Linked DNA regions of Homo sapiens: region 1 is linked to region 2. A link means that fine-mapping ties the variant in region 2 to the expression of a gene that starts in the linked region. Tissue or cell type: aorta. Region 2 holds a variant in brackets; the other region holds the start of a gene. All regions are shown on one strand. Distances are between the middles of the regions.

The links. PIP is the estimated chance that this variant, and not a neighbour inherited with it, causes the effect.
Region 1: SSTR5 starts here. The variant in region 2 is fine-mapped to the expression of SSTR5 in aorta (GTEx, PIP above 0.99).

The regions. Positions count from the first base shown.
Region 1 is chr16:1,069,831-1,075,185 of GRCh38, forward strand. It overlaps SSTR5 (somatostatin receptor 5), which reads left to right and starts at 2,917. Exons shown (of 2, transcript NM_001172560.3): 1 at 2,917-2,992. The region is part of intron 2 of SSTR5-AS1 (SSTR5 antisense RNA 1); the gene reads right to left. RefSeq lists enhancers at 1-708, 1,677-2,418.
Region 2 is chr16:1,092,908-1,098,262 of GRCh38, forward strand. C1QTNF8 (C1q and TNF related 8) reads right to left here and starts at 3,337. Exons shown (of 5, transcript NM_207419.3): 1 at 3,249-3,337; 2 at 2,708-2,881; 3 at 1,808-2,026; 4 at 590-1,144. The coding sequence starts at 2,015. The coding sequence ends at 594. The variant C/T (reference allele first, on the strand shown) is at 3,321.

The DNA.
Region 1 (5,355 bases), 23 kb before region 2:
TGCCCACTGAAGCTCGAGACCACGGCCAGGAGGGTCAGCCAGGGCCCCAGGGGCGGGACTCAGGCCCCTGCAGAAGGCCCCATCCTTGAAACCCTTTGAGGGTCTCCCTGTTTCTGTCTGGACCCCGGGCCACGCTCTGCCCTTGGCAGCTGCAGCCTGCATCTCACTCCAGACGCCTTGGTGGGAAGCCCCTGCTGCCGGGTCCCCAGGCTGGAATCCGCAGGATGTCAGGGCACCCTGTGCTCTTGGGGACGCTCTGCGGTAGCTCCCTGAGGCTCTCAGACACCAGGACACCCTCCCAGCCCAGTCCCAGCAACACATGCCGGCAGCGCCTGCGCCAGTGTTTTCTTCTCCTGTCGGGAGGCTGGTGACCCGCTGTGCTGCCCCGGTGGGGGGCTGATCTCTGACCTCCTGTCTGGCGGGCTGTGCTGCACCAGCCAGGGCCGGGAGGTGCACGTGGACCCGTGTTTATTGGAATCCTGCTGTGATCAGACCCGGGGGCGACGTCGAGACCCACCAGGCCCCGTGGCCTCCTGTGAACATCTGCAGGCTGTTGGGGGCAGCGGTCGACGGAACAAGTGTGGGGCGGCCCGGGCTTCCCGGAGGAAGCGTTGCTTGAGCTGCCAGGGGAGTTACCTGCAGAAAGGGAGGTGGGGTGCACCAGGCAGGGGGGCAGCCAGGGCAAACGCCTGATGCTCAGAGGGTGACAGTGGGCAGCGGGGCCCTTTGGAGGAGCGGAGGGAGGGCCCTGTTGGCTGCAGGGCAGAGTGCCCCACACTCCTCCTGGCCGCCACCCCCAGGGCCCAGCCCAGTCTGGGGACTAAGACGAGAGGCCTCTGGGGTGTTCCAGGTGAGCTGGAGTCAGCCCCTGTTGCTTTTGAATAATTACAGGGGAGTCAGCCCAGTGACCAAGCCTCTGCCTGGTGGGGGAGGGGCACGGGCTTTGTGTCCGGGAGCTGCTGTCCTCAGCCTCAGGAGAGGGGGTGTCACGGGCCGTGGGACAGGTCACAGTTAGGGTGGGGTCCCTGGAGAGGGGTCTGAGGACCGTCCCTGCGGAGTCCATCCAGCCACCATCGGTTGCCATGGCTACTGGCAGCCCCTAATCCTCACGGTGCTGGGTTTGACCTCTGCAGCGTCCCAGGCGGGCATGACCTCATTTGATCCTCCTGGGGTGGGTGGGACTGAGGCCAGGGGACTCCTGCCCAGAACTCAGGGTGGCCGATGTGGGGAGGGGCACTGTGGGGCCGACAGGTCCCCTCTCTGGCCATCAGGCCCCCAGGAGGGCCCAGGTGCTTGGAGGTGGGGGGTGTCCCAGCTTGATGTTGGGGATGTGAGTAGATCCAGCGCCCACCCACCCGCAGGGCTGAGCTCCCACTGGGCGCTGGGCCGTGACTCGCACACCGGACCCTGCACCCCTGGGGCACCCAGTGATTCCAGAACAGTGGGACCCCAGAGGCTTCTCAGGGAGCCCCAGAACATGACAGATGGGGGCCCAGGTGCGAGGCAGTGGGAGCTGGAGGAACACAGCCAGGGGCTGAGGCGAGAACCATGAGGATGGTGGGCAGAGGCTGAGGGGAGGGGCAGCAGATGGAGATGGGGGAGGCGTTAGGGGTCACAAAGGGGGTTCTCAGAGGATCTGCCTTGGGAAGCCACTGCTGTGGGAGGGTGGGAGGGATACAGCCCAGGTACCTCCAGAGAGGATGGAAAGGCTTATGGGGCGGATTCTGGGCAGGGGACCTGGGACCAGCCTGCAGCCTCCCCTGAGGGCCTGGCCATGGCCGCAGGCTGGGGAGGAGGGGAGGGGACCTTGGGGCCAGGTGCCATGGTCCTCTAAGCACTCTTGCTCGATGGTAAACATAACACGCGCTGCTTGCAGAACATGTGGAAACACTGAAACGCTTAAAGGAGAGAACATGGTCCCGGTACCCGGCCTTCAAGGGAGCTGCTGGCGCCTGTTCAACAGGAGCCGACCCCACCTGTGAACAGACGGCAGGCGGCTGCTCCCATGTCCCCTCAGAGAGGGGCCCTCCGAGTTCTGCTGTCACCTGGGGGCGCCTCACTTCATTCAGCCAGTGGCGGGGCTCCCTGGGTCGGCACAGAGTCAGGGGAGGGGGCTGGGGGACCTCCTGGTGGGAAAATGTCCGGTGATCCCCAGCCTCCGCGCTCAGCGGGAGGAGGCGCTCGGTCCCGCTTCTTACAACCAGCGGCGCTCACGGCGGGCCCGGGGATCAGCATCCCGGGAGCTTCTCAGGAATGCAGATTCCCAGGCCCTCACTGCCTGGGGAGTCGGGGGCCCAGCTCGAGGCCCAGGAATCTGCTTTGAGGACCCAGGTGACTCTGCTGCCTGCCTGAGAACCCCACCTTAGGTGAGGGACTAAGGTGTACCCATGGATTCATTTCAGGGGAAATAAAAAGAACAACTTAGCAGGTAGTCTATGCTTAAATATGTGTAGGATCCACAAATAAGGCATGGATAAAACCCGAGTGGAGTGTCCTGGAAATCCCACGACCACGGACCCCCCTCGCTGGGGCTGCCTGCCGCCCCCACCAGCCTCCACACACCCACTTATCTCCACAACCCCAGCCCACCCCTCAGAGACGTCTGCAGAGCCCCTGACCCTCTCCCCTTGAACAAGGACCCTCCACCCTCTTCAGACTCTCGACGAGGGACCCCCTGGACTCCTGCTGGCGGCAGGACCCCCACCCCAAGCTGGGGTCTACCACAGAGCGGACAGCAAGAAAATAGGGTGGGGGCGCAGGCGATCATGGGGTCACTGCCAGTGGGACCAGGGCTGTGGGCGAGTGCGCCAGGGTTCCCGGAGGCCAGACGTGGGACCCGGGAGTCGAGCAGGTGAAGCGGCCCTGCCCCGCCCCCACCAGGCACTGCCCCGCCCCCGCCCCGCCCCGCCCCCTCCCAGCCGGCGCCCGGGAGCCCGGAGCCAGTGCCGCGCGGACATCGGGGCTCCCCCGTTCAGAGGGCGCCGCCGCCCAGGTGAGTGCCGCCCGCCCCTGTCCCCCTCCCGCGCGGGCACCCCCTGCCCTCGGCTGTTATCCCCACTGGGGGTTTCACCCTGTGTGCGCAGCCCCGGCCCGGGGTCCCGCCGTGCGCCCCCAGCCCGCTGCACGCACTGTCCCCCACGCGCCCTCCGCACACCCGCGGGGCTCTCCTGCCGCCGCCGGGGGTCCCTCCCCTCCCGTTCCATCCACTCCCAGCAGCTCCATCCCTCCCATCTCCTGCCCCCACCCCACAACTCACCATCTGCAGGCACCCCGTGTGCCAGGGTCAGCCCAGAAGCCACAGGGGACCCAGATGGCCCCACTCTGCCCACCGCGCCGCTCCCGGCCTCTCCTCCCCACGACGGGGGCCACAGCGGGGCTGGCTCCTGGAGCTGGAGGAGGGTGGGTAAGGCTGGGGAGGGCTCGGAGCCTGGGGCTGGGGGCCGGAAGTGGCACTCAGGCCACAGGGAACCACTGGGCCACGGAAGGAGGGTCCCAGGGTGCCCGTGGCACCCAGCGAGGGGAGGATCCGCAATTTGGGTGCCGGGGGAGGCAACTGGTGCCTGCGCGCAGCTGGGTCGGTGAGCTCCTGGAAGGCAGCAGGCAGAGGCCAGCACCCAGGGGCCCTGTGACCTGGCACTCACAGATGGGTTCCCTGAAACCCAAGACTGGGGAGGCTGGGGTGCCACCCCGCCCGCTGCGAACAGAGCCCCCTCCTGTCCAAGGCACCGCGTGTACCTGGAATCCTCCTGGCGTCTTCACCCTCTCCAGAATAGAGAACACGCCACTGGGGTGTGTGCCCTTGGCCCTCCTCCCCCACCCCAGACCCACCCACGTGCCCGACCCGCTGTCCCCAGCCTGCCAGCCTGCCTGGGGCCCCCTCAAGGGCAAGAGAGCGGAGTGCATGGTGACAGAAGTTGGGGATGGTTCCAGTGAGGCTGAGCCCTTTCTGAAGGCAGTGATTCTGGACTATGTAGGTGGGGACTGCCAGAGCCTCCTGGGCAGAAACTGGTCAACAGCACCAAGGACAGGCGCCTGGCGTTGATTTCCAGAGCAAGACCCAGCGAGGCTGTCAGGAGGTGCCTGGTGTGGAGGGTGCCCCGAGAAGCGTTCGCGGAGCACGCGGGACCCCTGCTGCTGCTGCTCCAGGCTGGCCCACACCTGCCTCAGTTTCCCTCTCCTGGGGAGGGTATGTGCCCCTGGCCACAGGCTGCCGCAGGGACAGGTGGCGTGTATGTGGGGGACAGGCAGGGGTGCCATTGGCTGCACTCACAGAGCTGGACCCCAAGGGGGCAGTGGCCTGCCACCAGGCCACCCTTACGACAGAGGAAACAGGTCAGAACGCTTGTCCTGGGAGCACAGGCCTGGCTCCGGGGCCTTTGGAGGGGCTGGGGCCTGTAGTCTTAGCTAGGGTGTCCCCCGACGTTTGCCCCTGCCCAGCACACAATGGAGGAGCCCGGGTGGGTCTGCAGCCTCTCCAGGGTGCGGCGTGGGCCCCGGCCGTGTGAGCCGCTGCCTCCCCGAGCAGCAGGTTCCGCAGCCCCTCCAAGCTGCAGCCGCATCGCTGCCCCCCATGAAGGAGCCGACTCCCCGACCTCGTGCTGGGTTAGCCTGGAAGGAGTTGGCAGGGTGCAGGCTAGACCTCCACCCAGTCATGGAGGACTTGGTGCTGAGGCCCCGCCTCTGGTCCCAGGCCCCTGTGAAGACTGCCCCCTTCTCCGAGGAGCCCAGCGGCCTCCTGGATGCTGGGGAAATGCTGGGCTGCTTAGGGCAGCTTGTGGGAGCAATCGTTGAGCGCCCAGTGTATGCCAGCCCCGCTGTGGTCCCCGTCGTGGGGAGGTGAGGCCGGGAGCGGTGCTGTGGGCAGACTGGGGCCATCTGGGTCCCCTGTGGCTTCTGGGCTGACCCTGGCACACCGGGCACCTGCAGATGGTGAGTTGTGGGGTGGGGGCAGGAGATGGGAGGGATGGATGCTGCTGGGAGTGGATGCACGCAGCACCCTGCACACAGAAGCTCACTCAGTTTCATCAGCTCAGCAACCCTACAGTTTGCAGGAGTTGCCTATCCCAGAAGCTGGGCTCAGAGAAGCCCGTGACTTACCCCAGACCACGCAGCCCGTGTGGGGAGTGGTCAGGGGCCGGGGTCTCTCCCAGTGCCATGTCAGGCTGAGCAGATCCCTTCGTGGCCGAGGGCTCGGGATCAGAAAGCTCCTACTGCTGGCTCCCCCTCCAGTGAATCCCCCACCCACAAGGGACAGGGCCACCGGGACAATTCCCCGTGAGTGCGTAATTTTATGATTCAGAGGATACTGCTTCCAAATAACGGCTCTTGCAGAATTATGTTCCAAGAGTCAGGTAC
Region 2 (5,355 bases):
GCTCAACAAATCACTGCACACAGTCGGCGCTCAACCAATCACAGCACACAGTCGGCGCTCAACCAATCCCTGCACACAGTCGGCGCTCAATCAATCCCTGCACACAGTCGGCGCTCAACCAATCCCTGCACACAGTCGGCGCTCAACCAATCACTGCACACAGTCGGCGCTCAACCAATCACAGCACACAGTCGGCGCTCAACCAATCCCTGCACACAGTCGGTGCTCAACAAATCACAGCACACAGTCGGCGCTCAATCAATCCCTGCACACAGTCGGCGCTCAACCAATCACAGCACACAGTCGGCGCTCAACCAATCACAGCACACAGTCGGCGCTCAACCAATCCCTGCACACAGTCGGCGCTCAACAAATCACTGCACACAGTCGGCGCTCAACCAATCCCTGCACACAGTCAGCGCTCAACAAATCACTGCACACAGTCGGCGCTGAAGCTCCGCTGCCCGCCCACCCCACCACACCCACACCCACCCACACACACACACCCACACCCACCCCCACACACACACACACAGACACACACACACACGCGCGCGCGCGCCCGGTGCTCAGCCGCGGGGCCCCTCACCCGGCTACAGCTCGGCGGCCGGCTTGACCAGGTGGCCGCTGAAGGTGATGTAGAGGTCTCCGTGCTCGCCGTAGATGGCGTTGTCCCGGTCGCGCTGGAACATGCGCACCCAGACGGCGTCGCCCGCCGCCAGCAGCAGCATCAGGCTCTGGGCCTGCATGACGCTGCGCTCGCTGGGCTGCGCGTAGAGCACGGCCGCGGGCCGCCGGTTCAGCATGATGTGCAGGTAGGTCTCCTTGTAGTTCCAGGTGTGCACGTTGAGGCTGAGGAAGTAGACGCCGGGCACCGTGCAGAGGAAGCGGCCCGCGGCCAGGTCGAAGGCGCCGTCCAGGTTCACCAGCTCCGTGTCGAAGGGCACCGCCTGGAAGTGGTCGGAGCTGTGCAGGCCCTCGCGCCGGCCCACGGAGAAGGCGGCGTAGGCACGTCGGCACGCGGCGCCCGGCGGCCCCACCTGCCCCTTCTGGCCTCTGCGGCCCTGCAGGCCCCGGGCGCCTGGCGGCCCCTCTTTCCCGCTCCTGCCGGCCCGACCTCGGACGCCGGCCTCACCCTTCTCACCTGCAGGGGACAAACGAAAGCCACGGGTCGGGGCCGGGCTGGGCAGGCCTCCCCCATTCCAGCACCCAGGCCAGGGGCTGGGGCTCAAGGGTCACTGTAAGGACACACTCTTTGCAAGTGACGGCCCCTCTCCCAGTCTCCGCGTCCACGTCTGTAAGATGGGGAGAAGCCGTTCTCCAAAGGTGTGGCTAGACCAAGGCCTGTGGCAAGGCCGTCCCCACCGAGAGGGTGGGGACATGGGTGGTCAGGGCCAGCTACGGTCTGCGTTGGGTGTTAAAGAATGAGAAGGCTGGGAAGGTCCTACCCAAGCCTAACCTTAGTACAGCCTTCGGGACAGCGCAGCCGTGTCAAGGGGTCTCAGAGCAAGCGGGCTGCCCAGGCTCCCTTCCCAAGGGGCTGCTACTTTGGGGATCTCAGGAACCCTGGCCCCCTTCCCCAGGATCCTCAGCACCCCACTTTGGTTCATGGGTCCCTCCCCAAGCCAGGCTTCTTCCTGCTTGCGGGGGGAGCCCAGGGGTCCCTGTGCAGGGAGCGCTGCCAGGGCAGACACTGGTGCTCAGCGTGCCCCTCCCGCCCCTCCTCCCAAGCCCCAGGTGCTCCCCACTCCCTGTGGGCTGTTGGGTCCTGGTGGGGGAGCATGCAGGCAGCACCCACGGGCCTCACCTTTGAGGATTTCGATGTCTATAGTGGGCCGTACTCGAGGCAGCCCCCTCCACAGGTCCCCCCTCCACAGGTCCCTGTCACTCACCCGGGCATAGGGTCCAGGGGGCCAGGCCGGGCGGCAGCAGTGCACACAGGGCCTCCTGGGCAGCCCGGGCCAGGCCCCCACGGGCAGCAGCAGTGCTAGGAGCAGCAGGGCGGGGGCTGCCATCTTGGCCAGGGCTGGGGGAGAGGAAAGAGGGGAGGGACTGAGAAGGAGGTGCCCCAGCTGGAGCCCCCAGACCCTACGGCAGCCCGGCCCTGCCCCCGTTGGGAATACAGCCAGTGGAGGCGGGAGCTTCTGCCTGGGCACGGACGGTCCTGGCCCAGTGGGTGAGGCCAAGGCCGAGGCTCAGGGGCTGCTACACTCTGGGCCGCACCAGGCACCCTGCACACCTGGAGTCGGGGAGTCCTGGTCCCCAAAGCTGGGGCCCCCACACCCGGCAGATGGTGGGGAAGCCGTTGTGGGACACAGAGGTCTCTGAGACAGCCCTCTAAACTCAGGAGCGGGTAGCCGCCCAAGGCCCCACCCACTGTGGCTGGGCAGAGCCCTGGGGCGTGGTGGCTGGTCTGCTCCAGGGAAAGGCCCCCCAAGGCTGGCCTGGGGTGGGGGGCCCTGCACAGTGCACAGAGGCACCGTCTCAGCCAGGCCCAGAGAGCCTCTCGTCCGGAGCCCCCAGGGCAGGGCCTGCAGGGGCCTCGGGAGGCCACTCCTCTGCCTCCCCCAGACTAGGGAAGGATGGTCCCACCTTGGTGCCGAGGGGAAGCCAGAGCCAACCTGGGTCCCCCTGAGCAAGGTAGGCCCCCTCCCAACAGCAGCTGCCCCAACAAGCCTGGCCCCCCTGCCAGGTGGGCCTTGCCTACCCCACTCCCCTCACAGCCACATCTGGAGGCTTGGCCAGGAGTGTCTTCCGCTAGGGCAGGTGCACGGGTCGGGATCCTCAATATTCCCTGAAGATGGGCTCTGCTGGACAAAGATCTAGGCTGCCTCCTTCAGGAAGCCCTCTGGGATTGTAGCACAGGGCAAGGTCCTTCCTCCTGCAGTGGGTCATTCCAGGTGGGTGGAATGTCTCTGGCAGTTGAGACACCCTCTGCCTGCCTCCCCATGAGCTCAGCAGACCCTGACTCACCCCCTGGCCCCACTGGACACCACAAGAGCCCCCCTGGACTCCTCCGGCAGAGGGAGCCTGGCAGGAGTGGGTGTGTGCATGCACGGAGGCCTGCAGGAGCCCCCACGGAGTTCCCGGCCGTCCCAGCCCCTGGCCCTGCCTGGCAGACAATCAGGGCTGGATCATGCTCCGCTGGGGTTCAGGGGGAGCCCGACCTGCCCAGGGCGGCTGTGAAGACTCCCACAACCAGCCCCAGGCCCTGTGCTTCCTGTTACCGTCTCAGGGATGCTCCCTGCCTGGCCGGCCGTCTGTGTTACTGTCCCAGCAACCCAGCCGTCAAAGAGCCCTTTCATGCCCGCCTGGGCGCC[C/T]GTGGCTTCCTCTGGGCTGTCCAAGAGCAACAGGCCGAGAGGCCAGCTCCGCCGAGCCCTGGACAGGATCCTGGCAGGGCCCCTGTGTCCACTGCGAAGCCTGCCTCGCGGCCCCAGGGTCCTCCTGCCAGCCCCGTGCCCATGAGCGGGGCTGGGGCCCGGCGTCTTGGCCGGCTGGGTTGGGGGATGGTGCCGTGGGCACGCAGCTCTCCTCCATCGGGAAACCAAGCCTGCTGCCCGCCTGGGGTGCGGCGCCCTGAGGAGAAGCAGGCAGATGGAAGCTGTGGCTGGGCGGGCCCGGCGGGGGGGCTGTAGGCCGAGGCCCGTGTTCGGGGCCCAGACCAGGGCCTCCATGCTGCACGGGGCCCCCATGGCCACCAAGCCACCGGGTGACGCACAGCCCTCATGCTGCTGGCGGGGAAGCCAGGCTGGATGGAGCCCAGGAGCGCAGCCTCCCCAGGCTCCGTGGGGTCTCTTCATTCCCTCATGACACCCCTGGGGAGGCCCCGCACCAGCCCCGCCTCTCAGCGGATAAGGACTGGGCCGGACGACTCGCGGGAATGACTTCTAGGCCTCCCAGGCCTCAGCGGGCGGGGGCTCCATTCTCTGTGGGCCCCAGGCCAAGCCCACACAGCACCTTGGCCTTGTCCCGCTCCGACCCTGGGCCTCTGGACACGGACACGCGGCCATTCCCCACAGGTCCTTCCTCCACAAGCCGGCCCCTGTTGTGGGAGGTGCTGGACGTGGCAGGAGAATTGTGGCGGCCTTGCCTGAAAGCAGGCTGTGGGCGGGGAGGGGCCCCGAGCTGGCTCAGTCCCCTCGGCAGATTTGTGTGCGACCTGGGGTCCCGCTCTCCCCGCAGCCCCTCAGCTTGGCCTGGCCCTCAGCACCCCCATGCTAAAGACCGAGGAGGAAAGGAGGACAGGAGGTGAGGGGAGACCAAGGGGTCCCCCCTGTGGGAGCTTCGTGTGCCAGGCTGCGGGCAACGGGCTGGGGAGGGCTGTGGTGGGGACCGCACCAGCTGTAGCCGGTTCCAGGCTCCCCCCTCCAGGTGGCCCTGGGCGGTGACAGCTCACCCTTGGCAGCGGCACCCACTAGGCCCAGCGGCCCCCTCTGGGGACAGCCATCTTCACCCTGTTGGCTGTGGTGACACAGATGGGGTGTGAAGACCTGAGCGCCTGTGACTATGGCACCTGCATCCGACCGAGCCGGCTCAGCGTGGCTGTGCCCTGGGCGGCGAGAACACAGCTCTGCAGATGTGTCCCAGTGGGACAGTGTGCTCCTGGGGCTTGCAGAGAAAGACGGGCGGACGCCCACACTCTGCTGTGCCCTGGGTCTGAGCCTCAGCCTCCCATGCCCGTGAAATGGGCACCCATGGAGCTCAGAAGTATCCAGAGCGTCCCTGAGGCCTAGACACAGGGAACCCTGTGCCCCTCAGTGCCCCCCGACGCCAGCAGAACTGCCCCCTAAAAAGAGAGGCATGTTCCTGACAGTCCCCCTTGAGGGCAGGTCCCAGAGCCTCCCCACGCACAGAGCAGGGTGGAGGGAGGCTGAGGGGTGGGTGAACGGCCCGGGAAGGGTGCCTTTGGGTCCCTTGGGTTCGGGTGGCCCGGGATGACCCGTCCTGGGGAGAGTCCGTCTGGGCAGGCGGCTGGCAGGGCCGATGCCTGAACTATGTGGCACAGAAGCTGCAGGCCAGGCCTGAGTGGGGTGGGCAGGGAGCGCGGGGGGTGACTCAGTGGGGCAGGACAGCATGTCTCCTGGACAGAAATAGCCCTGGCCAGGCATGACCGCGGCATTGCCGTGGCGACGGGGGAGCGGCTGCTGCCGGGTGCCCTGGGGCCCACCCCCCACAGACACCCAGCAGCGTCCCAGGCGGGCCCCGGGAGGGCCGCCCCCTCTCCGTGCTGCGGGGCGCTTGTGCCAGTGAGGTGCGGGTGGAGGTGCCAGGCACTGGGGGAGGGGGCCTCAGCAAGACCCCCGACTCCACCCCTCTCTCCCAGCCTTCAGCTCCCTGCTGTACAGACTGGGGGCT